Linked DNA regions of Homo sapiens. The protein of the gene in region 5 interacts with the protein of the main gene of each other region in a pairwise test. Each region holds a gene or a part of one and is shown on either strand. Other genes may lie near its edges. The genes, in order: LAMP2, ZNF410, CASP6, CHAT, CAPN3, GSN and SH3GLB1.

The links.
Region 1: the proteins of CAPN3 (region 5) and LAMP2 interact in binary tests that used the Homo sapiens proteins (3 or more experiments, as listed by UniProt).
Region 2: the proteins of CAPN3 (region 5) and ZNF410 interact in binary tests that used the Homo sapiens proteins (3 or more experiments, as listed by UniProt).
Region 3: the proteins of CAPN3 (region 5) and CASP6 interact in binary tests that used the Homo sapiens proteins (3 or more experiments, as listed by UniProt).
Region 4: the proteins of CAPN3 (region 5) and CHAT interact in binary tests that used the Homo sapiens proteins (3 or more experiments, as listed by UniProt).
Region 6: the proteins of CAPN3 (region 5) and GSN interact in binary tests that used the Homo sapiens proteins (3 or more experiments, as listed by UniProt).
Region 7: the proteins of CAPN3 (region 5) and SH3GLB1 interact in binary tests that used the Homo sapiens proteins (3 or more experiments, as listed by UniProt).

The regions. Positions count from the first base shown.
Region 1 is NC_000023.11:120,427,510-120,431,296, forward strand, and holds part of LAMP2 (lysosome-associated membrane glycoprotein 2 isoform A precursor), read right to left. Parts: 3' UTR 1,118-3,787; coding exon of another isoform or gene 975-1,117; 3' UTR 1-974. UniProt on the Homo sapiens protein: Lysosomal membrane glycoprotein which plays an important role in lysosome biogenesis, lysosomal pH regulation and autophagy.
Region 2 is NC_000014.9:73,920,733-73,925,195, reverse strand, and holds part of ZNF410 (zinc finger protein 410), read right to left. Parts: intron 4,217-4,463; coding exon 4,091-4,216; intron 3,131-4,090; coding exon 2,990-3,130; intron 2,498-2,989; exon of another isoform or gene 2,460-2,497; intron 1,802-2,459; coding exon 1,674-1,801; intron 495-1,673; coding exon of another isoform or gene 393-494; exon of another isoform or gene 377-392; intron 1-376. UniProt on the Homo sapiens protein: Transcription factor that binds to the sequence motif 5'-CATCCCATAATA-3', and is specifically required to silence expression of fetal hemoglobin in adult erythroid cells.
Region 3 is NC_000004.12:109,687,966-109,691,587, forward strand, and holds the end of CASP6 (caspase-6 isoform alpha precursor), read right to left. Parts: intron 3,045-3,622; coding exon 2,885-3,044; intron 1,604-2,884; coding exon 1,365-1,603; 3' UTR 663-1,364; downstream 1-662.
Region 4 is NC_000010.11:49,623,406-49,627,868, reverse strand, and holds part of CHAT (choline O-acetyltransferase), read right to left. Parts: intron 2,397-4,463; coding exon 2,216-2,396; intron 262-2,215; coding exon 84-261; intron 1-83. UniProt on the Homo sapiens protein: Catalyzes the reversible synthesis of acetylcholine (ACh) from acetyl CoA and choline at cholinergic synapses.
Region 5 is NC_000015.10:42,404,057-42,408,022, reverse strand, and holds part of CAPN3 (calpain-3), read right to left. Parts: intron 3,260-3,966; exon of another isoform or gene 3,068-3,259; intron 2,098-3,067; coding exon 2,080-2,097; intron 1-2,079. UniProt on the Homo sapiens protein: Calcium-regulated non-lysosomal thiol-protease. Proteolytically cleaves CTBP1 at 'His-409'. Mediates, with UTP25, the proteasome-independent degradation of p53/TP53.
Region 6 is NC_000009.12:121,270,642-121,275,104, reverse strand, and holds part of GSN (gelsolin), read right to left. Parts: intron 3,296-4,463; exon of another isoform or gene 3,242-3,295; intron 1-3,241. UniProt on the Homo sapiens protein: Calcium-regulated, actin-modulating protein that binds to the plus (or barbed) ends of actin monomers or filaments, preventing monomer exchange (end-blocking or capping).
Region 7 is NC_000001.11:86,745,039-86,749,056, reverse strand, and holds the end of SH3GLB1 (endophilin-B1), read right to left. Parts: 3' UTR 873-4,018; downstream 1-872. UniProt on the Homo sapiens protein: May be required for normal outer mitochondrial membrane dynamics. Required for coatomer-mediated retrograde transport in certain cells. May recruit other proteins to membranes with high curvature. May promote membrane fusion.

The DNA.
Region 1 (3,787 bases), on a different chromosome or scaffold from region 5:
ATATCAGGGCCCACTAACCTCTAGAGTAAGCACTTGTTGCTGTGAGAAAAAAGAAATCAATATATTAAAAATATCAACTAGAGCATATTCACATAGGGAATGGGAGAGTGCAGGAGGCACACAAACAAAGTATATAGAGTTTTTGTTTTCAGTGCAGGATAAATGAACCTTCTTAACAAGTTAAGGCTCTGAGGGAAAAAAACTTTCTAAACCATAACCTTAATAAACCATAACCCATACAGGTGTTCCAAATCAACACCTTTTTTAAAAAAAGCTGGAGGTCTTACTTCATCCTTCAGTATAAATGTCAAGTCTGAGATAATCAGTATATTCCAAACTCTAGAACAACAACAACAAAAAAAGAAATCTCCTTGTTAAAATATAGTAGCTATTAACAGTAATGAAGAAGACAGCCAAACTTTTGCTATTAAATACAATATCATGAAGCCATTTCTTTCTTAACTAACAGAAAAATACAGATTTAAATAATGCTGATCAGGAGGTGGGGAAAGGAAGTCTTATCATGAACCAAATTTCGTGTCTGCCACCAATGAAAATGAATCCACTATGTTCTTGAATTTATTTCCTGAAGCAAGTTAAATTCTTTAACACCTTTGATTTTGCAAATAACATCAAAGTAGTAAAATATAAGTAACTGTAACATATAAAATTACACATCAGCAAAAATGCTTTCATAATTGGATCCAGGGGCTTAAAATCATTATTTACTTAAAAAATTCTAAGCCACAATTTTTCTTTTAATTATACTTTAACAAAGGAAGAAAAAAAACAGAAAAAAATTGGTCCTAATATATTTTGTCTTAAATAAGTGTACTCATGCCCAAGTTAGCTAGGAACTCACTGAAGTTAGTCTGCATATCTTAAACAATCTATTGCACAGCATGTCCTGGCTTTTAGCCAATGGAAACGTAACTTCTAATTGAAAAAAACAAACAAACACTAGATTTAACTGATTACACAGACTGATAACCAGTACGACTTTTCCTTCTTCCAATCATATAAGAGATAAAGACAACAATTATAAGGAAGCCCAAGGCCACACCCACTGCAACAGGAATAAGAAAGTTGAGGTCAGAGTCAGCAGAACATTCTTCAGCTGTTAGAAAAGAACAGACAGCAAGGAAAGGAAATTAGCAAAGAATGCAATTAAGTAGTAAAAAGCATGCAAGAAACATGCATTTTGAAAGTGTACATAGCTTAGTTTTTTATAGCATTACCTCTATTTTCTTATTTGCTCAATATCTCATTATCACTTTATCTAAAATCACACGAAATTCCTCAGTACGAAAAGCAGAAGGTAAGGGAAGAATGGGAAGGGTCCAAAATAGAGAATTGCGCTTGCCTAATATGGGAAGACTTTAGGTTTGATTATCTAATGACACTGGGTTAAGGAGCCATCATCTACACTTAAAACCACTGCCTGTGTATTTCCCTACTCTCTTTCTCTTCGTCACACCTATAATTAAAGTATAAATAAGAATTCTGTATAAGTAATAAAATTTAAGTTAAAAAAGACTTAGGATCAAGAATGTAGTATATATATACATATATATGTGTGTGTATATATATGTGTATATATATGTATATGTGTATATATATGTGTGTGTGTATATATATGTGTGTGTGTGTACATATATATATATATACACACACACACAATTATTTTTAGCTGAGCGGTGGCCTGGAAGAATAACAGCAGTATCTAATGCGTTGCAGTCCATTCCACCGAACCACCAGGAAAGCAACATGTGCAATGTAGATTTTGAGTTCTGGATTCAGACAGAACTGTGTTTAAATCTTGACTCCTTCCAGTACTAGCCAAAGGACCTTGGGCAAGTTATTTAAACTGGGCCTCACTTTCCTCATCTGTAAGAAGGGGATAATAATACCTATAAGGTATTTGAGGATTAAATACAATTACATTTCTAAAGCATCTGATACACATCAAGAGGTCAACAAGTATTCATTCTCTTCTCTTTTCCTCTTATGCTCATGATCCCATCTGAGGAGGATTAGGTTTTGAAGTAGCAAACAGAGATTAAAATAGAAGTGTTTTGGTATATTACTACTGAAAAAGCCCATATTAGTATTAAAAAAAAAACTTAAGCAAAACATAGTACGGAAGCCCAAAGTGCCCAATTCTGATCTCATAATTTCAAGTGTAAACCAGCTGTTGTTTTACTGTTGAGTGACTAGATTTCATTAGGGGCAATTTTTATCAAAATGCTAGTAATAGTTTTGTTGCCCACTTGATATGGAACCTCAATGAATTTCACTCCCCTTTCTGTAAATAATCGTTAAGGTCCTTTCCAGTAATAGCTAATGAAATTAACAAAATGTGTTATCTGGTGTGATTTATGATTAAGCAATAACTTGTACTTTTCTTCTAATTTTAACTTTTCCTCCTCTTGTACTTTTACCATTCATAAAAATGTTGCTACGGTTCTGAGTACACAACACTCATCTCAGTAACCACACATTAGCCTATGCTGAAAGAATTTACTATATTTTACTGAAAGCTCTCAAAGACTGACAGCTGGGTAACAAGATACACTGTATTGTTAATCAGGAAGTTATAGAGACTCTGATCATGCCCCTATATACATACAATGGGTTAATAATACTTCAATGTGGAAGTCTTCTAGTCTATTAAGCCTTCCTTCTTTATCTATGTTTCATGTCTGTGCTACTCTTATACCATGGAATATGCTTCAACAAGGGCTGATTATCTAGCTCATTTTAATGCCAACAGCTTCTCTTTACACCCCCATCTATGCACTGCCCCACAGGGGCCATCTTGAAGAAACAAGAGCCTAGTTGCTATGCTTCACTGCCTCCCTTCTGAGATTGCTGTTAGCTTACATTTCATAAGTACCACACTGATGACAACACTAAATAGATTTTAATGCTCCAGAGATCAACAAGATGAGGTAGAGAAACACAACACAATCTGTCCTAATTAGTTCATAGAATATTTCTATCTTTCAATACTAATCAGGCATCCAAAGAAGAACAAAACAAGAAACAAAAAAGCAAGTGGCTAAATATGCTTGGATCTTTTCAGTCTATATTGCTGAAAAACAAACAATTATCTTAAAAACTCTAATTACGAAGCCAGTTTAAGTTCTGTTGTAGCCTCTTGGGTCTGTATCATCCCTAGGGAAAAATCACAGGCTTGAGGTACTAACTTCATGCTTAACTTGAACTCAGAGAAATCAGCAAAAGTCACATAACCTTTAAAATGCTGATGGTCCTGAGGACATTCTCTACTTCATTCAACTGAAAACCAAGTTTAAGCATATCTGATGGGCATTTATACCACATCAATATTTATTTAATGAACTTTATGCAAAGGCACATTGATGAGTTTAAATCACTATAGTCCTTATACATTGAAACAGAACACCAGTAGTGAAATGACATTTATTAATTCCATTAAGACACAACTACATATTTTATTCTTATAATGGCCATGTTAATAAGTTCAAGGCATACTTCAAGGTTAGGATCAAAATTTGGCCAGGGCTTCTTAAGATAGACCTTAAAACATTGCACGTTGATGTTCTTTTGAACAAGTTTGTCTCCAGGACCAGTAAATATGACACTTTGGATTTTAAGCTGATTAAAGAGAACAGGTTTTATTAATAAAGACTGATCTCAAAATGCTGGGATTGATAAAAGAATTAAAGTTTCAACATATCAATTTTAAGAAGCAAAGTGTTTCAACAACTGAGAGGTAAGAAAATCTTGTTATTTGCATGTATTT
Region 2 (4,463 bases), on a different chromosome or scaffold from region 5:
TATCAAGATCAAAAACTTTAAATATAAGCAAAGACAATGGGTCACAACAATAAAAAGAAAAGTCCTGGCAAAAGCATTAACATGTATGCCCAGAACCCTGTAATCCTGGGTACCCCCAAAGATATTAGAGAATAATGGAGAATATTCAATATAGGATGCAGAGTCATTTGAATGATGCAACAGCTTACTGTGGTATAAAGGTTATAATGAAAAGAAGAAGGCTGGGTGCAGTGGCTCACGCCTGTAATTCCAGCACTTTGGGAGGCTGAGGTGGGCAGATCACGAGGTCAAGAGATCGAGACCATCCTGGCCAACATGGTGAAACCCTGTCTCTACTAAAAATACAAAAAAATTAGCTGGGCGTGGTGGCACGCACCTGTAGTAGCAGCTACTCAGGAGGCTGAGGCAGGAGAATCGCTTGAACCTGGGAGGCAGAGGTTGCAGTGAGCCGAGAACGCACCACTGCACTCCAGCCTGGGCAACGGAGCGAGACTCTGTCTCAAAAAAAAAAAGAAAAGAAAAGAGGAGAAAAGACGGAAGAGCACCATAAAAACTAATGTAATACTGAAAGGATCCAAGCTACAGAGGTTTTGACAAAAGTTTATGCATATGAAATGTGCTCGTGATGAAGTCATCCACTCCCATGACACAAGACCAGTGAAATATCCCAAGATTTTAAAACACTGACCACTTTGCATTCTGTTTCCTGAGTCAAAGCCAAACTACAGAGTTGAAAGTGCTTTAGCTCAACCTCAAACCCTTTTTGTTTAGATCAGAAGTCACCAACCCCCAGGCCATGGACCAGCACTGGTCCGTGCCCTGTTAGGAACCAGGCCACACAGCAGGAGGTGAGCAGCAGGTGAGCAAGCATTACCACCTGAGCTCCACCTCTCCTGTCAGATCAGCAGCAGCAACAGATTCTCATAGGAGCGCAAACCCTATTGTGAACTGTGTATTTGAGGGATCTAGGTTGCGCACTCCTTATCAGAATCTAATGCCTGATGACCTGAGGTGAAACGAAACCGGTCCCTGGTGCCAAAAAGGCTGGAGACCATTGATTTAGGTAATGGTTCTCACTTAGCAAGCAAGTGAACAAATCTGTATATGCCCATTTGGTTAAGCCTGGTATCTCCCAGACATATGACCATAGCAGAATGAACAATAATTATGTTTAATGATTTTGTTACTACCTTTTTTGCTGAGGGACTTTTTCCAGGATGTTATTTCTGGAGAAAAGAAAGGGATCTCTAGGAAATACTTGCTCCTGTCTGGTACAGAAATTTCACCCAATTTACACAGGCCAGGCCCTCTTCTCTGAATAACTTAACAGGTGAGGTCAACATGCATTTATTCAGTGCCTGCTGTGTGCTTTTATAAAATAAAAGCTGTATCATGTTATAGTGTGGCAGAGAATAGTGGGAACAGACATCAACAAGGAATGTATATAAAAGAACTTTAAAGCCGGGAGTCCCAGCTGTGACAGACCAATCTCCAATTCATTAAGACCCTAACCCTCAGGCTCCTTTCAAGCTGAACTCATGCTTAATTTAAAGGAAAATATTCGTGCCAAAGTTTCCAGGAAATGGAAACTGGAGACTTTTTCAGGTCCTCTAAATTCTCAATCATTCCCCACATGAATTGTCACAGAAACAAAGGGCAAGAGACCACTTTACCTCTTGTGGATTTACTGCAGTTAAGACAGAAACTTCATATGATTGCCTCCCTGACTGCATGGTCACCAGGTGATGTGTCACATCAGGCACTGAAGACAGGGAACGTGGGGATCCTTCAGCAAGCACCTCTGTGAAGCAACAGAAAAATGTTTCAATGAAAAGTGAATCCAGAGATACACCTATCTGGATCATTAAGCCTCTCATTAACAACTCTAAAACTCTATTCCTCTATTTCCCACATTCCTCTATTTCTTCCAAGTTAATCCTGTCTGATAAGCATTATCAGTGAATTTGGAAAGTAATATAAAAAGAGAATAGAAAGGCAAGAAATCTTAATACAGGATTTAGAATAATATGGTGTTAGCACTTTTAACTGAATTAAAACTATGTATGAAACAGGCAAAAGTCTTAGGCAAGCAGGTAAGGGAACCAAAGCCACCCTTAAAAGCAGTCGCCAATGATACTAATAGCACTTACTAACTGAATATGATATGAGTAACAAAAACATAGGGTCTCACAGTTACTAAATGTTCATCAGTGGGATCACCATGAAAATCTTCTGGAAATAGTTTATGGATATACCACTTAGCCCTCAAAAAACTAGAAGTTTCTTCTAGGGGTTTTCTAGATTATACAACTATTTTATGCTGTACCATATAATTTAATGTTGGCTTATATACTATCTTTTATGTACTCAATGTTCTTTCCCATATATATGTAAGCTTTCACTTCTCAACTGGATTTTAAGGTCCCTATCTTCTACTTTTGTCTTTCCCATGGTGCCAGGCACACAGTAGGCACTGAATAAATGCATGCTGACCTCACCTGTTAAGTTTTTCAGAGAAGAGGGCCTGGCCTGTGTAACTTGGGTGAAATTTCTATACCAGAGAGGAGCAAGTGTTTCCTAGAGAGCCCTTTCTTTTCTCCAGAAGATATGGCTTTTGAAGGTATGGAGAAATTGCTTTATATCTCCTCTGTAAAACCTGGTTATGTTCTGTTTAAATGTTCTAAAAGTTAAGTTCTTCCATAACTGCAATAGGAAAGATAGAAATAGTTGGGCTAGGATGCTAGGATTAGGAATAATTTTTTCTTAAGAATTTTTTCTTTTTATTCTTTTATTATATTATCTTCAATGAAAAAAAATTTTTTTTTAAACAGATTGACTAATCCACCCCAGAGAATAAGAACACAAATGCTACTCATACCACAGCTACTCATAAGAAATGAGATTTAAACATACATTGTGGAGACACCCCATTCCTTAGCCCCTAGTTGCAGCCCATTTTTCCCAAATAAAGGAGAGTTGGAAGTCTTACCATCATCAACTCCCAGGATAGAATTGGTATTTGGTAGGTTCAAGGACTCTCCACCAAGGCTGGGCTGGGAATTCATAGACACCAGGTTTTTACTGGGTACTGAAGCCTCTTCAAGCAAACTACTGCCCATTAGTGGCTCAGCTGCACAGAGAATAGGTTGTGAGAGACATACAGCAATCAAGGCTGTGCCTGGTCCTCATTTTCTTTCAACAGAAGCTGGCCTTCTCTTTCATTACTAGAAGTTAACCTATAGATGGGATGCCACCCCCTATTTCACCTACTTTCGAGAAACAAGAATAAACCTAGAAGGGAAAGAGTAAGCCTTAGAAGATAATGATCCTTGCTTGTGTTCAGCGTCTGAAGAATTAGCATATGAAACAGGATAGGTGGATCTTTAGAAAGGAATATTTGGAATAATTAAGGAAAGATATGGCGAAGGAATAAGAATTAAAAAGAGTTATCAAATTTCAGGCAGGGCAAAAAGGTAGTCATGACTGGTAAATAAAATATGCTTCCAGCCTGGCCAACATGGTGAAACCCCGTCTCTACAAAAATATAAAAATCAGCCAGGTGTGGTGGCACCTGCCTATAATCCCAGCTACTCAAGAGGCTGAGGCAGGAAAACTGCTTGAACCCAGGAGGCAGAGGTTGCAGTGAGTCGAGATGGCGCCACTGCACTCCAGCCTGGGTGACAAAGCAAGACTCCATCTAAAAAAATTAAAAAGCTTAAACTCTTCCCATGTGGAAATCTTTTATCACTGTGTTACTCAAATGCTTGTTCATGGATCAGCACTAGTTACCATCAAACTCACTAGGGAAACTTTTAAAACTACAGATTCTAGGATCTTGCAAATTATCTCATTTATCAGATTGCTTTGTTTTATTGGTGGGCGGACAAGCAACAAAAAGTATATAAATTTTAAAAGGTTGCAGATGATTCTACTGTATAGCTATGTTTGGAAACCATCAGCCCATCAAATGAGACCAGGTCTATCTACCCAAAACAGAATCAGAAAATTTCCAGATAAGCAGGCAGGACAGTGATTTGGCTCTTGGAACCCTAGAAGTAGTACAGCGTTCCACTATGCCCACCCTCCTCACCAGTTTGCTCCTGCTCTTGACTCCCAGCTGCTCCCAGCTGCAGGTGATGCTTTCTCATATGCACATTCCTGCTTCCACTCTGAGAGAAGGTCTTCCCACAGACTTGGCACTGATGAGGCTTCTCTCCTGAAACAGGGACCAGGTTAAACAAGGAAGCCAAAAGGACAGGAAGAGAATGAACTCAAGACCTAGATGGAGAAACCCAGAGAATGTTAAACTGAACATAAGCAGCTGCTCCTTTTCCCATTCCGCACCTTCCCAGCCTCTCAAACTTCAGTATATGGGGGAAGGCAGGAAGAGTACACCAGGAGGGCTTTAGCACACTCCCTGCTCCCAGCTGCTGGTCCTTTCCAGACCTTCTGTAATGCTGCCT
Region 3 (3,622 bases), on a different chromosome or scaffold from region 5:
AACTCCTGGGCTCAAGCAACCCTCCTGCCTCAACCTCCCACGGAATCGTCTTGTCATTAACTTCTTTTTTTAATATGCAGTAGTTGGGAGTAAGATCTTTTTATCATTTATCAAAAAGGCATAAATGTTCCACCAACCATAAAGTATAGTTGGTACTTTTTGAACTTCAACTGAAACAGTGTATATAAACGATTGCTTTTGAACCTGCAAATCACAAGTTTCAGGTATCGAAGCCAAAACAGTTAACTTTCTTCAGCCTCTGGCAGATTATTAACAAAACAGTATTATTCAGATTCTATATCATATTAATAAGAATTGAACCTTGAAAGTAACATCTGTTATTCTATTAATGTGATTGTGTGTGAATGGGTCTGATGACTGTTGGACTGTTTGTAGGAACTTAACATGGAAGATGCTGACAGAATCAGATTTTGCAGGTGTTCAACCTATAGTGGCTAAGAATTATGTTTTCTATTTCATCCTCAGAATGCCATACAACAATTCTGGAATGCTGATTTTTTTTAAAGTAGGAATTAAAGTCATACACAAAATGTGGTAATTCATATGTAGATGAAATATTAAACATTTAAATGACCGAGTAAAAAACATCTATCAATTACACAAATGAACAAGAATGTGAGTTAGAAAAATGTAATAAAATATGAATTTCGAATATTTTATTAAGGGATGATTTAATTCCTGGATTTCAAAAACCTTTAAAAACATCAAACAATAAACTTTTATAAAAAAGTGACAAAATACAAGTTAAATCAGCTAGATTTTTGTGTAACCCTGCAGTTTATTAAAAAATAATACAAATGCTTATAAATTTTTATTTATCTAATTTCCTGAGGATTTTGTTTCTCCATATCAAACCCTTTCACCATGGCCAACATGAACTTTTTTTTTTTTTTTTTAAGGCAGTTCTCTGCTAGGCATTAAACTTTAAAACATTTGAATCATTAGACCATAATGCTTCACCCTAACGATATTTATATAAAAGGAAGAGAAAGACATTTTCTTTTTTTTGAGACGGAGTTTCACTCGTTGCCCAGGCTGGAGTGCAATGGCGCAATCTCGGCTCACCGCAGCCTCCACCTCCTGGGTTCAAGTGATTCTCCTGCCTCAGCCTTCCAAGTAGCTGGGATTGCAGGCATGCGCCGCCATGCCTAGCTAAATTTTTTTTTGCATTTTTAGTAGAGACGGGGCTTCTCCATGTTGGTCAGGCTGGTCTCGAACTCCCGACCTCAGGTGATCCGCCCACCTTGGACTCCCAAAGTGCTGGGATTACAGGTGTGAGTAACCACGCCTGGCTGAGAAAGCCATTTTCAATACAGAGTGTAAAATTAGATAGCCTCTATTAATTAATTAGATTTTGGAAAGAAATGCAGCTTTTTAGTTAGCATTGAGGCAAAACAGGGAACCTGCTTCTTTCCAATTGCACTTGGGTCTTTGCAAAAGTCCACTCGGCGCTGAGAAACTTTCCTGTTCACCAGTGTGAGGAGTTCTGTGAACTCTAAGGAGGAGCCATATTTTCCCAACATCTCACACAAATCTTGAATGTACCATGAGCCGTTCACAGTTTCCCGGTGAGAATAATATCCTAAAAAAGTGAGAAGGAAAATGTTGCTGCAGTTTTCTGGCTTTCAATTACTGTGTGTATTCTTTTTAGTTACAGAAGTATAAGTTCTTAAAAATCCTTAGAAGAGTCTTAAGATGTGTCCATGATATAAATGGCTTTTAAATTTTTTTGACTCTTTTCAAATGGGAAAAGAGATTAATTCTATATAGTTTTATATACACGGGGTTAATTCTGTATAATTTCTTCCATTTCCTAAAAAATTCCCAAGATAGACAATGATTGAGACATGAGATTACTAAAAAGAAGTCAAAATTATTTACTACAAAAGCAAAGAACCATTATCAAAATATTTTTCAGTTGGGCATGGTGGCTCATGCCTATAATCCCAGCACTTTGGGAGGCTGAGGCAGGCAGATCACTTGAGGTCAGGAGTTCGAGACCAGCCTGGCCAACATGGTGAAACCCCATCTCTACTAAAACTACAAAAATTAGCTTGGCGTGGTGGCAGGCACCTGTATTCCCAGCTACTCGGGAGGCTGAGGTAGGAGAATCACTTGAACCCAGGAGGCAGAGGTTGCAGTGAGCTGACATTGGACCACTGCACTCCCGCCTGGGCAACAGAGTGAGACTATTAAAAAAAAAAAAAAATACACACACACACACACGTCTGGGCAACAGAGTGAGACTATAAAAAAAAAAAACGCACGCACGCACGCAATGGCTCATACCTGTACTCCCAGCACTTTGGGAGGCCAAGGCTGGAGGATTGTTTGAGACCAGCCTGGGCAACATAGCAAGACCCAATCTCTACCGAAAAATTAAAAAGTTAGCCAAGCATGGTGGTGCATGCCTATAGTCCCAGCTACAGGGGGGCTGAGGTGGGAGGATTGCTTGAGCCTGAGAAATTGAGGCTGCAGTGAGCCATGATCATGCCATTGCACTTCAGCCTCAGTGACAGAGTTGAGACCTTGTCTCAAAAAAAAAAAAAATTAAAGCTTTCCATGACAATTACCACAATGGCACTACCACCCTCAGTAACTGATGGTAGGCTGCTAATACTAATATAATTAATTAGACTGTTGCTTTACTCAACATAACTCTCAGGAATTATTTTTCTGTAAGGTACTTTACACTTTCATTTATCACTCTGTGCCATGTGGTCAAAGAAATTCTAAGTCTGTGAGCTTCAGGATGGAATCACCATGTCCCAACCGAAAGATCTGACCCAAACCAATCAAAGGTGAAACTTACAGGACCTTAGCCAAGAGAGGCAATTATATGTTTGTTTTAAACACCACACACCTTCTGCAACAGAGTAACACATGAGGAAGTCAGCTCCAGCAGGCAGCGTGTAAACGGAGGCTGCATCCACCTCAGTTATGTTGGTGTCCAACTTCTCTGTCTGATTATCTACTACATCCAAAGGAATGACTGGCACATCGTGCTGGTTTCCCCGACATGCCTACAAGACAAGGAGGAAAAACCCACCTCTTTGCCTACTGTTTCCTTCCCAGTGCTTAATGTGTGCAGTGAATGTGTAAGCCAGTACCCCTTCATTACAACAGAAACCACATTCTGAGCAGTTCAGAAGCAATACATTCAGGTTTGGAGGGCACAAAAGCCAACAAAGTTGTTTCCTTACTTAGGCTTTCTTTTAGTTAATGTTTTAAGAAAAAATTGGCATCCCCAAGTATACATCAAATTATGTTGGTAGAAGGGTATACTGTAGAGGAAAAAGCTTGTGGTTTTAAAATTTCTTACAGATTAACCACACCCAGGGCACACGGTGTTACCTTCCCTTTTGAAAGCTATAGTATTGACCTAAGTGTTTCTGTTTAGGCAGGCAGTGTATTTCCAGATTGACTTTTGCTTGCCTGGCTGCTGCTATAAATTGTTAGGAGTTAAAATGACATCCAGCCTGACCTGAGGAGATACCTACTAATGCACCATCTTCCTTGTGTGCCCATTAAAAAGTGAGGTCTCAAATTTTTACCCACTAATTCTGACTCACTCAGAATTTACATTAAATTTAGACTCATA
Region 4 (4,463 bases), on a different chromosome or scaffold from region 5:
CCCTGGCCCAACCCTAGAGGAGGGAAAGCCAATGGGCACGAGCATGAGATGGGCATGGAGATGTGCTGGGCACTGCGGCTGACCTTTCACGAGGACCGTCCTGGCCTCGGCCCACTCGCTCCTCCCGTCAGACGTCAGCAGGCCAATTGGAGGCAAACGCTCGTCCTCGTTGGAAGCCATTTTGACTATCTTTCTCAACTGAGTGAACAGATCCCCCTCACTGAGACGGCGGAAATTAATGACAACATCCAAGACAAAGAACTGTGGGGTAAACAGGTCAAACATGTCACTTGTTGGGTGGCCCGTGGCACCAGGCCTTCACTCAGCCTTCACAGGTAAGCTTGGGGCAGGGATGCTCAGGCCCAAGGTTCCCAAGGTGTTTGGTGGTTCTAGTCTCAGTTTAGGGACCAAGCCAAGGCTGTTGACTGTGCTGGATTCCACGCTGCCCCCAATCAAAGAAGGCAACATTAAACTTAGCCAAAAGAAAATGTGTTTCATGGTTCACGGAATCCATTATGTTTGTGGGGAATGGAATATAAATTGGCACAGCTACTGTTGGAGGGCAGTGTCTATCAAAACTAAAAATGTGCATACCTATGACTAAGCAATTGCACTTATAAATGCATATTTTAGCCTGAGGCTTAGAGAAACGTACCCGTGTGTACCGGAAGACACGAGGAATGTGCCTCTCGGCCTTGTTTGCAACAGCAAAATGGTAGCAAGAGCCTCACTGTTCTCCAGAAGGGGAATGGCTAAGTGAAATGTGGTGTATATGTCTAGGGCATGTCTACCCAGCCATTGAAAAGAGTGAATTAGCAACAGATAGAGCCACAGTGATGGGCCTTAAACACACTGGTGAGTGGAGGAAAAAAAGCAAGCCAGCAATCATATGCAGAGGAAGATTAAAATGGAAAACCAACACACACCATGCGTGCATGTGCACCTACACATGTGTGCATGTGTGTGCACCTTCACATGTATACCTACATGTGCTTTGTATGTCAGCCCTGTGGTTTTGTCATTTTGTAGCTTTGAAGGCTAGAGCCTTGGGCTTTGTGAAGGGTCTATTCCTAGACCCAGGTCAAGATACACTTTTCAGCTGATTGACATGAGTACCTTGTTTTCCCTTCCCCTCCAACCCCCTAGCAGTGTCTGTATGGCCTGGTCTTGTGCAGGGGCCCAGAGCATGTCTGGAAGAGGTGGATACGGTGGCCTGTGGGAGCTGGGAAATACTTGGCTTGACTTTTGAATGAAGATGGGGAAACGTCCTTGGTCTATGGCCAAGGTGTCAGGTGGGCTGCGAGAGCTCCTAGATGGCCTTCAAATCTAGGAACAGAGGTCACAGCTGCCCTCAGATGTCAGGGCTCCACAGAGCTCCCAACTTACTAAAAATGTGAGGAGAGCCCAGGATCACATTGTAGAGCAAGTACCAGGGGAGTCCCTGGGATGGTTGCCAAACTTGGGTTTTAGCAAAGCAAAAACAAAAACAAAACTGTTTGTCAGAGGAAATATTTATGTGAAGCTCAATATATGGAATATATAGTGCAGTGGGCACAGGGAAGAGGTCAGGAGCCCTCATGCTCAGCCTGTCCCCCAGGACCCATGGGTCCTTGTTGGCTCTGTGGAACCCAGTCTGAGGACCTGAGCTGCAGGGGGTAGAGCATGACCTTAGGGCACTGGCCAGACCCAGGATTCCTTCCCACTCTTGGACAGACCACTTAACTTGTCTGAGTCTCATGTCCTCAACTGTCACACAGAGATCCTAAGGCCCCCTCTGCATGGTCACTGTGAGGATTAAGTGGGATGAATGCATGTTAAGTGCTGAGCCCACAGGCTGACACATGAAAGGTCCTATTTGTCAGTCTGTAACACTGTCTGTCTGTGTGTGGTCTCCAGAAAGGCCAGAGCCTGGGTGACTGCATGGAAAAGAACAGATGTACAGGTGGAGGTCTCGATCATGACCCTCAGTGCATCAGTGCTGAAGTGAGAGTCCAGTGAGGATATTCTCAAACTGACGGCTCTCATTCTTAGAAGGCAACTGGTGGAGAGACATGGGACTGACTGGAAGTAGGGGCCCCACTTTGGAGACATGGTGCCCCAGCTCCCTGTGTGACTCAGGGAAGGAGGCTGAGCCCCCTCGGAGAAGGTAATGGACGTGAACGCATGGCCACTGTATGCTCTGTGCCCTCCCTCACCAAGACAAGGGGTTGCTTACCTGATTGCAGCAGGCTACGATGACGTGCTCAGGCTCCGGCATGATGCTGCTGTTCTGAGCCACCAGCGTGTCCTGGGTATGGCCGGGGAGCCGGTAGGAGGAGAAGAGCCCATAGTATTGCTTCATGCAAAGGGGCTGCCCTGACAGCTGGCCTTTGGCACAGTCAGTGGGAATGGAGTGGCTGAAGGAGAGGAGTGGGAAGGGAGGCAGCCACGAGGGGATGGTGGGTGGTGAGGGGAGACAGAGAATGGGTTTTATTGTAACTTGATCAGGCAAAATGGGGCACAGAACCCAGAACTGCATCATCATGGCAGATGCAGAGCTCAATTCTCCACTTTTTAAAGTAGTGGAGGCCCCATTTCCACAACACGTGGAGACCCTCAGAGTTTTCTCAAACCTCTGCCTCATGCACGGCATGTGCAAAGCCTGCCAGTTAGCCTTCTGCATCTTTGCTTATGCTGATCTTCTCTCGGCGTGCCTTTGCCCCAACCCCAGAACTCAACTGTTCTATTCAGAAAACTCCTTCCCCTCCTTCAAGAGCCTACTCCTTTATCATCTCTTTTAGAAGCCTCTTCTGAGGTCAATGCAGGAAGTTCTTTTTCCCTCTGGTCTCAGCATGCCTTGTGCCTATCCTTCCTTTCTCCCTCCCTTTCTTCCATCCATCCACCCATCCATCTATCCATCATCCATCCATATATCCATACATCTACCATACTTCTACCACGAAACATCCATCCCTCCTTCCACCCACCACCCACTCATCTATCCACCATCCACACATCTATCCACCATCCATCTATCCTTGCATCCACCCATCCATCCACCAAGCATCCATCCATCCTTCCATCGACCCATCCATCCACCATCCACCCATCTATCCACCATCCATCCATCTTTCCATCCATCCATCCATCCATCCATCCGTCCATCCATCCTTCCTTCCTTCCACTCTTTCAGCCAACAAATATTTGTGAAGCACGTCCTCCGTATAGGCCAGGCACCATTCTGGGATGTGGGGATATGGCAGCAAATAAGACATGCAGCTCCTGCTCTACTGGGGTGTAAGTCCTAGGATGTGTAGGTAGGGAGTAGACCACAAGCAGCAAACCAGTGAACAGGAGACTGTCAGGTAGTGAGACAGAGTGTTGGCAGGGACAGGAGGTGGTGACCAGGGGCAGTCTCACTGAGGCAGGTTGATTGAGCTGAGCCCTAAGGGTGAAGTGTCCCAAAGCACTGCAACTCAAAGTATGAGTATTGCACTGAACTGCTGTGACTGACCCATGACTTGGTGTAATGCCTGAACCCAGAAATGTTTGTAGCAATGTGATGGGAGTTTTATGTCTGTTGAATCCTGTAATAAAACATTTGGTCTCATATTTCATACCGTTTTTCTAGTAATCAATTTTTTGTTGTTTTTCACAAATTTTACAAAATGAAAGAAAATATATTGGTTCTTCCCCAGAGGCAGCTTGAGAAGCACTGATCAAAGGCAGAGAGAAGCCAGTGGGGCTGAGGCCCAGTGAAGACAGGGCCAGAGAGGTGGGCAGGCCAGGTCCTGTGGGGCTCCAGTGGCAGTGGAGAGGAGCTATCGCCTTATTCTTGGTGCAGTGAAAGCCCTTGGGAGGCTTTAGCACGCAGGGGCATGACTGGGTTTCCATTTTGTTGTTTTACTGACCCTGCTTATATGGGGAGAATGGACTGAAAGGTGTCACAGGAAGAACAAGGAAGGAGGTTGTGGCAGAGAAGGAACGTGATGTCTTGTGAGGGCAGCAGGGAAGGAGGAGGGAGCTTGGGGACACAGTGGGGAGGGAGAATGACCACATCTGAGCACCATGGGTTACATGAAGGTGCAAGGGAGAAAGCAGAACAAGCACAGGTGACTTCTAGGTTCCCAGACTCACCAACAGGGCATGTGCTGGTGCACTTACGGACATGGCTCGACAAGGTATGGGAGGAGTTGGGGAATGGGGAGGGAGAGGCGAAGCTCTCCTGGCTCATTTGTAATGACTGAGAGACACCCCGGTGGGGATGGCTGAGGCTTGGATGAGCGAGTGTGGGACTCAGGGGAAGGGACACAGCTGTATTTTGTGTCTGTTTAAGTGACTGTCTTGCCCAATAGTCTAAGGACATTTTGAGGGGAGGATGAGGCCTTATTTCTCTTCCTCTTCCCAGCATAACTACATTGCAAAGTGAATAAGTAAATTAATTAATTAATTAATTAAAGGTTCAAAACAGGCACTCAGGAAAA
Region 5 (3,966 bases):
TTCATACCCACTCCATCCCTCCTCATGGTAGAGTATTGAGAGCTCAGCACGTGAAATGCTAAGAATGCTAAAAGCAGCATGATCTAGTGCAGTGATTGTCAAGTATTTTGTAGACTTTTTTTTTTCCAGATGGAAACACTGTTCAAATTAAATTTCCTGCAGAAACATGGTGTATATAAAAACACAAGCTTCTCTGATTAATGAGAACAGAGCTCTTTGCCCTCAGCACCCCACATCACCATGGCAGCTACTGAGGCACCTCAAAGGAACCTCTACAACCCTGCAAAGTATAGATTGAAAAAGGACACGGATTAGTGGCATGGTCAGTGGGTGAGCCATCAGAACACTGGGCTGGAATCCCAGCCCTGCCCCTCATATAAGAAATATCCTCTCTGGCCGGGCACGGTGGCTCACGCCTGTAATCCCAGCACTTTAGGAGGCCGAAGCAGGCAGATCACAAGGTCAGGAGATCAAGACCATCCTGGCTAACTGGGTGAAACCCCATCTCTACTAAAGATACAAAAAAATTAGCTGGGTGTGGTGGTGGGTGCCTGTAGTCCCAGCTACTTGGGAGGCTGAGGCAGGAAAATGGTGTGAACATGGGAGGTGGAGCTTGCAGTGAGCCAAGATCAAGCCACTGCACTCCAGGCTGGGTGACAGAGTGAGACTGTCTCAAAAAAAACCAAAAATATCCTCTCTGGCCTCAGTTTACTCATCCTTTAATGGTAAAATCTGCTTTCCCTCCTCATAGGGCTCTTGTGGGGATCAAATGAGATACTGAATGCAAAATCATACTGCAAAAACATTTAAGATGCTACACAAACAAGGGATATTTTCAAGACATGCTCGTGCAAGTGACAAGGATATGAAAAGGACGGAGAGCGGCTGCTGCATGGTGCCAACACTGTGGATGCGGTGCACCTGTAGGGAAAGCCGGGGGAAGGCAAGGCTGTGGGGATTGAGGCTGCAATGCAGAGAACAACTGGGCAGGCAGAGCCTCTCGGAGCAGAAAAGCAGCCCGCCTGGACTCATGCACCACTGCCCTTCCATGCTGCTCATCTAGGACAGCTCAAGCAGATAGACCCGTGGAAACGGCTCCCCAGCTTTGGCTCCCAGCAGGCCCCAGAGGCCTTGGCTTGCTCTGCCTTCTAAGCAGTGTCTTGCTCAAGCAGCTGAAGCTTGTGGGGATCCCAGAGCAAATGGAGGTCACAGTCTGAGGGGGGATGTGTAGGATGGATATGGTGTGGCCATGGAGCATCCCTGCCAGGCACACACTGGCAGGCCCGAGTGTGGGTCTGGACAACACAGGCCTTGAAGTGTAGGGGGCTGGCATCAGAGAAAGAGGGCAAGAAACACAGGTTTTGGAGTAAACAGACATGGTTTCCAGTTCCATTTTCCCCACTCATTAGTTCTGTTCCTTGGGCAAGTTCACTTCTTTGAGTCTATCTCACCTGTGAAAGGGGAAAAATAACAGCACCTACTTTGTAGATACTGTTATAATTGGGGGGGAAAAAAAAGAGAGGGACTGACCCCAAGCACAGTGCCTGGAATGTGGTAGTGCCTGAGGAGTGTCAGCTCTGGTCTGGGCCAGCACCAGTACCTGGAGGACCCCTGTGATGGATCCATCACCACCAGGCACCACCAGAAATGCTAGCACCAAATCTGATGGTGTATGATGGCCTCTTGTGGTTCAGGACACGGACTCTGGACCCAGACTGCCTGGCTCTAAGTACTGGCTCTGCCCCTCTCTGGCTGTGTGGCCTTGGGCAAGTTAGTCAAGTCTGTACCTTTTCTCCCTCTGAAAATGGGGATAGTTATAGTACTAATCTCATAGGGCTGTTGTGAGGAAGGAATTAATCATGGAAAGCACCTAAAAGAGTGCTTGGCACGTAGCCTTCCCCCAGCAAATCGTAGTTGTCATTACTGCACGCTCGGCCCCAGCAGAAGCTCAGGAAGGAGGGGGAGGAAGAGGCAAGTCTGGTGCATGGATGCATATGAGCTCACACATGCACACTTCACATGCATGCACATACATATGCATGAGTACACACACTTCATGCTCTCTACCCACACACCTACCTTGGTTTTTTTCTTTTTCTGCATAAGAAAAGGAAACAGTAAATGCAGAATAAGTGAAAAGTAAGTTCTCAGAACCGCCAGTGGCTTTTGGCTTCCCTGTATCCTGGTCTTTAGCTTGGGGTGGGGCTCCAGGGTCCAGAAATCTGAATCACATGGAGCCAAAAAGGGGCATGGAGGGTGAAGGGAGAAGAGAATTCTTCTTTCTCCTCCATGCCCAGACACCAGTGACTGCTCTGACTTTGTTTTTATAATCTACTCTTACTGCATATGGCAAGGAAAAAGATCTTCTGGCTAAGGTTTTCTTTCTTCCTTTTTTAAAAAATGAAATTGGTGGCCGGGCGTGCTGGCTCATGCCTGTAATCCCAGCACTTTGGGAGGCTGAGGTGGGCGGATTATCTGAGGTCAGTAGTTCAGGACTATCCTGGCCAACATGGTGAAACCCCATCTCGACTAAAAAATACAAAAATTATCCAGGCGTGATGGTGGGCACCTGTAATCTCAGCTACTCAGGAGGCTGAGGCAGGAGAATTGCTTGAACCCGGGAGGCGGAGGTTGCAGTGAGCTGAGATCATGCCATTGCACTCCAGCCTGGGTGACAAGAGTGAAACTCCGTCTCAAAAATAAACAAATAAATAAATAATAAAAAAATGAAATTGGTTACTAAAACACCAAAAACATGGCTCTCTCAAACTGACCTAACAATGGATTTTGACTTACAGAATATTTTTTAAAAATTTTTGAGCAAGCATTTAACATAGGGAGATTTTCTTTGGTAAAAGCCCCAGCTGTGGCAGGCTGCCCTGGGCCTGTAATCCCTGCGGCAACTATCAGCTGAGCCAAGGGCCCTGCTCCCTGTGTCTTCCAGATTGCCCCACGCCCCAACATTCCTGTTGACCCTCGACACTGGAGCGAAATGTCAATTGAGAACTGCAGACAACTGTGTCAGTGCAGGGACATCAAAACCCCTGCACCTGCCTGCTCTACTCACGTGACGTGCCAGCTCCCATAAGCTTTTGGGTTTGCAGGTCCTGATCAATACTGCACACCGATGACCAGCATCCAGATGACCAGAACAGATCCCCACACACCTACCACTAAAACCAATCGCCTGTGGTCATTCAGAAGGCACTTGGAGACCTGGCACTGGCTCAGGGTCAGGATTATGACCATGACTGTCACTGCCCAGAAGACAGTTCAGAGGGGCATTTGTCCTCCCATTGGCCTACGTCATCCCCACAGAGCACAAAGGACTGTCAGCTGACTACAGCCCAAAGCCCCAAGGCAGTCACAAGACTCCTCAACACACAGAGCCCAACACACAGCACTCTGTGCTTCGGACTTTGGGCTTCTCACTGCCTGGGGCTGGCCTCAGCGTGGAGGTGCGGAAAAACCTAAGTCTGGAGTCAGAGAGTCTGAATGTGAGTTCCAACCCTGCCACTTACTGAGCTCTGTGAACTCAGAGAAGTCATTCAACCCCATTGAGCCTCTGCTTCCTTTCTTGAACACCAGGGATTATAACCCCATCTACCTCTCAGCAACCTTGCAAGTATCGCGATGACACATGTGAAAAGTACCTTGTAAGGTGTAAAGTGTGAAAAAGCACCTCTGTTTGAGTGCCCATGCTGTGCCAGACACTTCACATACATCACCTCATTGATGAAGCCTCACAAAAGCCTTGCAAGGCACATTATCATCCCCGTTTTACTGAGTAGGAAACTGAGTGAGAGGGATTACAGAAATTGTCCAGGTCACCCCGCTGGTAAGTGGAGGATCCAAGTGTCAACACCAGGTCCGGCACCAGCTTACTTTCTTTTCTCTATGTGTGAAATCCAATGTTATCCAGTCTCAGAATCCAGTGTTCGCTGCGGCTCTTGTCATCCCTTCCTG
Region 6 (4,463 bases), on a different chromosome or scaffold from region 5:
TCTATAAAAGGACAGCTGAGCTTTTTATAACCAGCTTCAGATGCTCCTGAAGAATGCTGCCATTCTCACGGATGGCTGGTAGGAATAAGGACTACTGTAACCTTTATGAGCAGAAATTTGGCAAAATTTAGCATGACACAGATTATTTGCTTGGCCAAACTTTAGCCAGGCTTCTGAACCTTCTCCTAGGCCTACCTGTGCACTTCCTTGTAAAATCCAGTTTTAGCAAAAGAATCCTGCTAAGTCTGTTTAGCCAGAACCCCTCATCCTTGATATCTGATCAGGCTCCTCATCCTCCACCATGCCCCCACTGATGTTTGAATCACCCTGGTTTGTCTTCATCAATAATTTTGTTAGGTCGGTTTAGCAAGAATATCCCTTATTCCTGAGCTTCCTCTTAGTAATTTTCCATCCGCTGACCCCTACCCTGCTCTGCAGCTATCAATTCCCACTCGCCCATGCTGTATTAGGAGTTGAGCCCAAACTCTCTCCCTCACTGTAGGACCCTGTTGCAGTGGTCCCTATGCCCAAGGCAATGTTCCTGAATAAAGACTTCCTTACCGTGTTTTCACAAGTGTCACTGAATTTTTTTTTTAACAAGAAAAAGCTATAAAATGTGTCATTTTGACTCAGGAACTCCATTTCTAGGGCTCACTTCTAGGAAATAATAAAAGAAGAACACACAAAAAAAGTATGCACTAGGTTGTTCATTGCAGTATTGTTTATAAACTGCCTAAATGTTTCATAATTGAGGATTGTTAAGGGAACATGGTACAGGCACACCAAAGATAGAATAATAGTGAGTGATGAAAACTCGGGTGGGCATTTATTTCTACCATAACAAAAAAAAAGTAGGAGGCAAGACCCTTGTTTAAGGACTAAAGAGCCACTGACAATAACAGGGTACAGCCTAGTGCCCAGATCTTTTAATGTCTATATTCGATATCTGACTTATCTGTCGATTTCATCTGCTATGAGTTTCTAGAATCTGAACAGCTCTTGAAATACTTTGCTGCTTAATTATGGAGCAAAGTAGGGTCCTGTAGGAGAGAGAGACTCAGTAGAAAGCCATGGAAGGGGGAGAAATACAGCTAGCATTTGATCAACCTTTTCACCAGAAGTTTTTATACCCAAGATTATAAACATTATTCTCTCTGTATTTATGGATGCAAACTACAGCCCTGGGGAGCCCCAGTCTTGGTTCTTTGGGGGTGATCTTGGGCAAATCCTGTTTCTCTCAGCCTTTTTGTTAATAAATAAAAAGCATTATTTCATTTTTTAATCCCTAGGACTATTGGAATAAAAGATTTAAATTAGAATAAACATTTATCTACTTAGGTATAGTATGCTTTTAAAACTTTTAAAAATTAAATTTAAAAAGAATCCTTAATAACATGAGAAAAATACTTACGATATAATGTTGAGAAAAAACAGAAAGTCAGAACAGACAATTATAAATATAGGATAATTGTGTGGGGGTAAAAAAAAATGCACTGAAAATATCAGGAAGGAAGGGCACCCAGGTGTTGGCAGTGATTTTCTCTGGTTAGTTATGAACACTTCTTTTTTATATATATACTTTTTTATTTCCTAAATTTTCTATCACAAGTGTAATAGAAATAATAAGGGTGGGGGGAAAAGGTCCTTGGAGGTGGGGAGAAAAAAGTACATATGCCACCCACATCATCAACACACACCCAACAAGTTAACTAGTATTTACTTAGTACCCACCAAAACCCAGCTCAGCCACAGTCTCTGTAGCAGGGAAATTAAGGGCCAAGCCCCACCCTGAAGGCTCACATATGTAGAATATATATACTTTGCTTGGCAAATAAGCTTGGCTCTGATGATATTCTTATTGAGGTTGGAAAATAACAGGACTGTTTGCTTAGCCAGCTCAGCAGAATAAACGAATCCACTCCCACTGGTGCGACCCCTTCACTGGAGTTCCCTGCGAGGCTCCATGGCTTAAAGCCTTTCTGGATCACTCTTGGGAAGAGTCAATTTCAGGGATACTTTATAGCCCAGGAAGAAAACTGTTCTCATCCCTTAACCCAGGCACTGAATGCAAGAGGTGAAGAGGCTCCCCATGAGGCAGAGCAAGCAAGGGAGGAGGGAGGAGCAGGAGGGCCTGGGAAGGAACCTGACAGGCTGTGTGTGGGCCCTGGGGACCCCTGGGCAAAGGAGCTCACGTCTCCAGGCCTGAGTTTCCTCACTGGTAAAATGGGTCACATAATGACAACCCCAGGACTATTGTGAGACTCAAAGAAGAGAACGTAAGTCCTTTCATTTTTCTAAACTGAGCCTCAGTTTCCTCATCTGTAAAATGGAGTCACTATCTCTCCCCTCGTAGATCTGTTAAAAGATTAAAGCAGATAGTGAAAGCAAAAGGTGAACATACATAGTAAGTGTGTTACATATGGTGGCCCTTATTATTGTTGCTTGTAGAGCAGGGAATGGGATACATCAACAAATCCTAGGCCTCAACTCCCTTATCTGCAAAATGGGGCAATCAATTCAGTCCGAAAAGATTAAATTCAAGAACAGTAGCTGAATCACCAGTTGCACCACTGCGGGCTCACTTTGTGTCTCAGACATGCCGGACCCAAGTACATGTGGGGAGCACAAAGCCCTCCAACTCAGAGGCCATCAGAGCTGGGAAGGCTGACATTATGCTGTCCACCCTACAGTGCAGAATGGACACTGGGGCCCAGAGAAAGGCATGCATTAGCCCAAGTCACCCAGTACTTTGTCACTGGCAAAGCCAGGACCCAAGCCCAGGCCTTCAGCTGCCTACCCTTGCCCACAACACCCACTGCTTTTCTCTGCCCTATTCTTAAATTGCTGATGTGGTCCCAGGCAGGGCAGACGAGAGCAGGCATATGGCAGGGGAGGGACAGAGGGAAGGGGAAGCTGGCCAGCAGCAGGAACTGAGCCTGCCTGTGGTCTCCAACTTCACAAACCACATCAGGCTGAAATATGACACACGCTCACTCCGTTGAAAGCGAGGAGATATTTTTACTTAACATCCCCCGGCTGCCTAAACACTGGTCTCTTTTTTTCCCTTCCTCCCCAAAATGCATAACCCCTGGGACGTGCTTTTCTCTGCTTCTGCTGGCATTTTCTCAGGGAATAACCAAGGAGCAGGAGAGTGTCCAGTTTTCCTGGCTTCGCCAGATAGATTTCCAGAGCATAAGCTTGATTGATGAAAAGGGGGGACCAGTCCTGGCTGGGCTCTCACCTCACCACATGACCTTGCTGGGCAAGTCCTGTGTCCTTTTGGAGCCTGGATTCCCTGAAATGGAGGGGAGATTGACCTGCACTGAGGGTCCTGCGGATGGCACAGGAAAGCATGAGTTTACAAACAGCCCCGGGAGGCCCCTCCAGGCCTCTCTGCTGCAGGGCTGAGCTCTCCAAGCTCTGCACACCGACACCCACCCCTCATAAAAGCATAACAAACTCCCTTACCAGTTCTCCTAATACCAGGACTAGAAAGAATTTTCAAGAGAATGTTTAGTGCTGTCATTAATAGCTATGGCTCTGTCGTCAGACCTCTGGAATCCTTGCACCATCACCCAATAGCCACACAACCCGGGGCATGTTATTCAGCCTCGGACTCAGTTTCCTCATCTGTAAAAGAAGATACTAGTATCTACCTCAGAGGAATGGTTGCAAGGAATCAATAAAGTAATTAATGTTCCAGTGCTTGGTATATTAAAAGATAGCTTTTTTTGTCTTTTCTTTTTTTGTTTTGAGACAGTATTGTTCTGTCATCCAGGCTGGAGTGCAGTGGCGTGATTTCAGCTTACTGTAACCTCCGTCTCCAGGGTTTAAGCAATTCTCATACCTCAGCCTCCCAAGTAGCTAGGATTACAGGAGCATCCCAGCACGTATTTTCAGTAGAGACAGGGTTTCACCATGTTGACCAGGCTGGTCTCAAACTCCTGGCTTAAGCCATCAACCCAACTCGGCCTCCCAAAATGCTGGAACTGCAGGTGTGAGCCACCATGCCCAGTTAAAAGATAGCTTTTTATTATTATCATGCAAACCAACATCTCTCCATTTTACACATGAGGAACCAGAGGCTCAGAGAGATAGGATTTGCCCAAGGTCACCCAAAGAACCAAGACTGGGGGTCCATTTCCAAGTCAGTGCTTCTAACTTCTCTCACACCTGTGGTCTCTGATAAGCAAATATACACACCCAGAGGCCGCAGACACAGGATGTAAAAGTTTTCTTAAAGAAAACCAGAGCTCAGTGTCTCAGCAACGTACCATAGACCAAGCAGAAATCATCTCTATGACCCACATCACAAATGACCCAAACTATTCACATGGAGTAGGGGAAAGTGACCCACTGTCACTGGATGGCTAAAAGTGAAGGCATCCAATCAACGTGTTTGGCAGGAGTGCACACACCATTGTTAACAGTGGCGACCTCTGGGGAAAGAGGCGGGCTTGGAG
Region 7 (4,018 bases), on a different chromosome or scaffold from region 5:
AGAATGAGGATTGCGTAGGTATAAGGATATACAAGACAATGCTCATTCACTGTGACAGCTTTCAAGGAAGATTTTCTTTGGCAATGGCAGTGATATTTACTCCAGAGGTTGACAATAGCAAATGCTCTAACATGCTCATCTATAAATCCTAGTAAGCCATAATATTATCCACTAGGTGCCAGCCACTCTTCATAATATGGTTAATCCTTTCAATGCTACAAGGTAGGTTTATAGTATTCTAATTCTAGAGATGAGTAAGCAGGCTCAAAGTGGGAGAGGTTTAATGACTGACAAAAGGCCAGGAAAACAAGTGGGAGAGCCACTGTTCTGCCTACCTTCCAAAATCCTACTTTCCCCACTACGGCTACATTCCCTAAATCCATCAACAGTACACCTGCATCAAAGATACCTCAAGATTCAAGTCTACTTAAGATTGTTCTTCTACTGTCTTTGCAAATGTCAGAAAGGTAATAATGCTTCCAGGAGACTGAATAAAAGCAAGAGGCAACTAGTACTACAAACATTTCCAAAGTAATACAAAATATATGATAAAGAGGGAAGAACAGTAAATGAATGTCATAATTTAAGAAACATTTAAGACTGGACTTTAATTTTGCAGGATCTTTTTATCTCCCTCTTACCCTTTATTTTTAAACCAAAGACTCCAAGAACATTCTAGTTGGAAGCCCTCCAAAAGAAACAGTATTCTCTCATATACTGCTGATAAAAGTATAAATTGCTTAGAGTTTTCTAGGGGGCAACATGGCAGTAACAAAAGCTTTTAAAAACTGGCATACCCTCTTCACTAGCAATTCCACTTCAAAGCATTTATCGTGAGAAAATATGAACACATACGAGATTTAGCAACACAATGTTCTTTAAAGCACTTTATTAATGAAAGTTGGAAACCTAAAAATTGAACAGTAGTTTAATAAAATGTGGCACATATGATGGAATATCATGCAGCCATTAAGAGATGTAGAAATATACTTGACACAGCAAGACAGTCATGGTATTGTTGAGTGAAAAAAAGTTACAAAACAGTATGTACACTTTGATCCCATTAAAAATATCTATAAATGCACAGAAAAGTCTGGAAGGCCATATACTTAAATAACAGTGGTTCTCCCTGGATGATGGAATTATCAGTGATTTTTCTTTCTCACTGAATCTTTTTTCTTTTTGCCAACAGGGCTATGACTTGTATTATAAAAAAGCATTAACAATTCTTTAAAAAGTGTCCTTTGAAGTAAGAATGAGAGCAGAACTTAGCAATCTAAGAGGCACAGGGATGTACACATGGTTTCTGATACTGTTTTAACGGTTTGTCAAGGTGTTTTGATGTTAGTCACCAATTAAAAGGCACTGTGTTGAGTGAAAACGTGGATGGTGGTAGTGCTTACTTTAGACTAAGCAATCCATTCCTAGAAACCTTCCACAGCAAACAAGTACTGGCATTCTAAGCAATACTTCCCACTATGATATCCTTATACCTTCCTACCCACTTGTAATACAGCCCAGAAGTTTCCCCTACATGGACAGGGCACTGTTGTTGGTTAAGGGTTACAGAAGGCAGAGAGGATTTTTCAAGTGATGTCAGAGAATAGGCCTGAAGGTGAAATGAATGTTCTCTTAGTTCTATTGCAGTGGTTCTCAAGCTTAGAGTGCAACAGTATTACTCAAACAGCTTTTACAACAGATTGCTGGGCTCCACTCTCAGAGTTTGATTCAGTAGGTCTCTGAAAAGGCTTATAAATTTGCATTTTTCTTTCATTCAACAAAAATTTATTGAGTTCATACTATGTCCTAGATCTTGTGCTAAGAGTTGGGAATGTAACTGCCATCAAAAGAATTATAGTTTTTATCTCAGGGAGCCTACATTCTAGAGTGACAGATATACACTAAACAAATAAATTATAAAAATAACTATAATTACAATGACTACTGCTAGAACACAATTAAGATTAGAAGACTCAGTTTTTGTCTTAAAATATTTAAAAAGCTGTCACATGGAAGACTGATTCCATGAGCCCTTGAAAACAAAAAATAAGTAAAAATGAAGGTAGAAAGTTCTTGAAAATAGTAATCAGCATTTTAAACAAGTCTCCAGGAGATGCCAATATTGCCGGTCTGGGGTCTCACACTTTGCCAATCACTGCTCTACTGAGTAGACATTTTTTCTTTCCTTGAGACAAGAGTCTTATTCTATCACCCAGGTTGGAGTGCAGTGGTGCAATCTTGGCTCACTGTAGCCTCTGCCTCTGGGGTTCAAGTGATTCTCCTGCCTCAGCCTCCCGAGTAGCTGGAATTACAGGTGCACGCCACCATGCCCGGCTAATTTTTATATTTTCAGTAGAGACAGGGTTTCCCCATGTTGGCCAGGCTGGTCTCGAACTCCTGACCTCAGATGATCCACCCGCCTCAGCCTCCAAAGTGCTGGGATTACAGGCATGAGCCACGGCACCCAGCCCTGAGTAGACTTTCTAATGAGCGTAATATGGGAGAAAGGGCAGGGGTGGTTGTGGAACTCTCTCTCCAGCGTTTGAGACTCACATGAGGTAAAAGCCACTTCATCTTATCTGGAGGTCTTGAGGCAAAGTTGGCTATAGGCTAAACTATGAAGCTATCTCTCCATTACAGCACCTCACTGAAGCTTAAAGTGCTAAATAGTAGGGCAATATTTCAGAATTTCAGGTGTTTGGGAGATAGGGAAGGAATTTTTCTGGAATTCTGTCAGCATGGAGGTGAGTGGGGCCTCTATGGGTAAACAAGTCTGTGGGTTTTTGCCTTGCCCTCCATTGTCTTCTCCACTCCACAGTTTATCCCAGAAATGTTTCCCCAACACTAGCTTCCCAGTCTCACTTTGTTCTTTGTTCAGGGGGAGGATAACAGGAGACTATGAAGATGACTCTACCCCACTGGTGATCCTGGCCTCAGGATTTATTTCCCATGTGACGCAGAGTGAGGAGGCACATTCCCATTTTTGAGACCTCATTTCTTGCAACATCAATTTTTCTGATTAGCACCATAAAAAGTTTTAACACCATGACCGTTTAGGTTAGATTACTTTGAGGAAAAAGGTAGACACAATCCAATCACTTTTTTTTTCATTTATAGAAGAGCCTACAATTATTTTAGTTTTTCATTCATATGTGCATCCTTCACATGTCACTATACTTTCAGATTAAGCTCAGTGGCACAGAGCTTATTTAAACAATTCTGAACTGCACCATGAATTAATAGGCTTCCCAAGCTTTTTCTTCCACGCCCAAGAAACTTCAGGCCTTTACCTGAGTAAAAACTAAACTTGACTTTAAAATAAGCCAAAACCAAAATAAAACCCAAACAACCAAACCCCATTAAAATAAAAAGCAATAAACCTAAGAACAAGCATATATATTGTGGTGGTTCTGTGGTAGACAAACGTACCAGAAGCCTTTGAAGCTTAACATTATTGAAGGTTTCTGTACATTACTGGGTAACTAAAATCAACTTTCACTTGATGGAAAGCTGAAAGTTCTGAAAAATGATTTATACTGACTGTGGGAAGGTTAAACCTGGGGTCTGATTTAAAGAGGGTGGAGGATAGGATTGATAGAGAGAAAACAGAGCCCAGATGTAAAAGAGGTATCTCTGGTGCACAGTGATATGCAAGGCCTATAGACTTGGTAGGTCAGGATGCTACAGGGGCTAACAAGGGGAAACTGATATTTACAGGATGTGTTTACTATGTGCCAAGCCTTTCCCTGAAAGGCACCTGAAATACAAGATAACATTTGCTAATCCTCACAACCACCCTATGGTGTCATAATTATTGTCCTCATTTTACTGGTAAGGAAAAGGCAGTTATACATCTCATTTGAAGCTTAAAGAGCACAATATGTGAGGAAGACTGGATTTGAACCCAGGACCATTTCACTCCATTACCGATATTCTTTCCCCTGTATTACTACATTTCCCATAAACCTAATTCATAGTTGCTGTTTAAGTCGATCTGAAGTTTTGGTATGATCTTTCA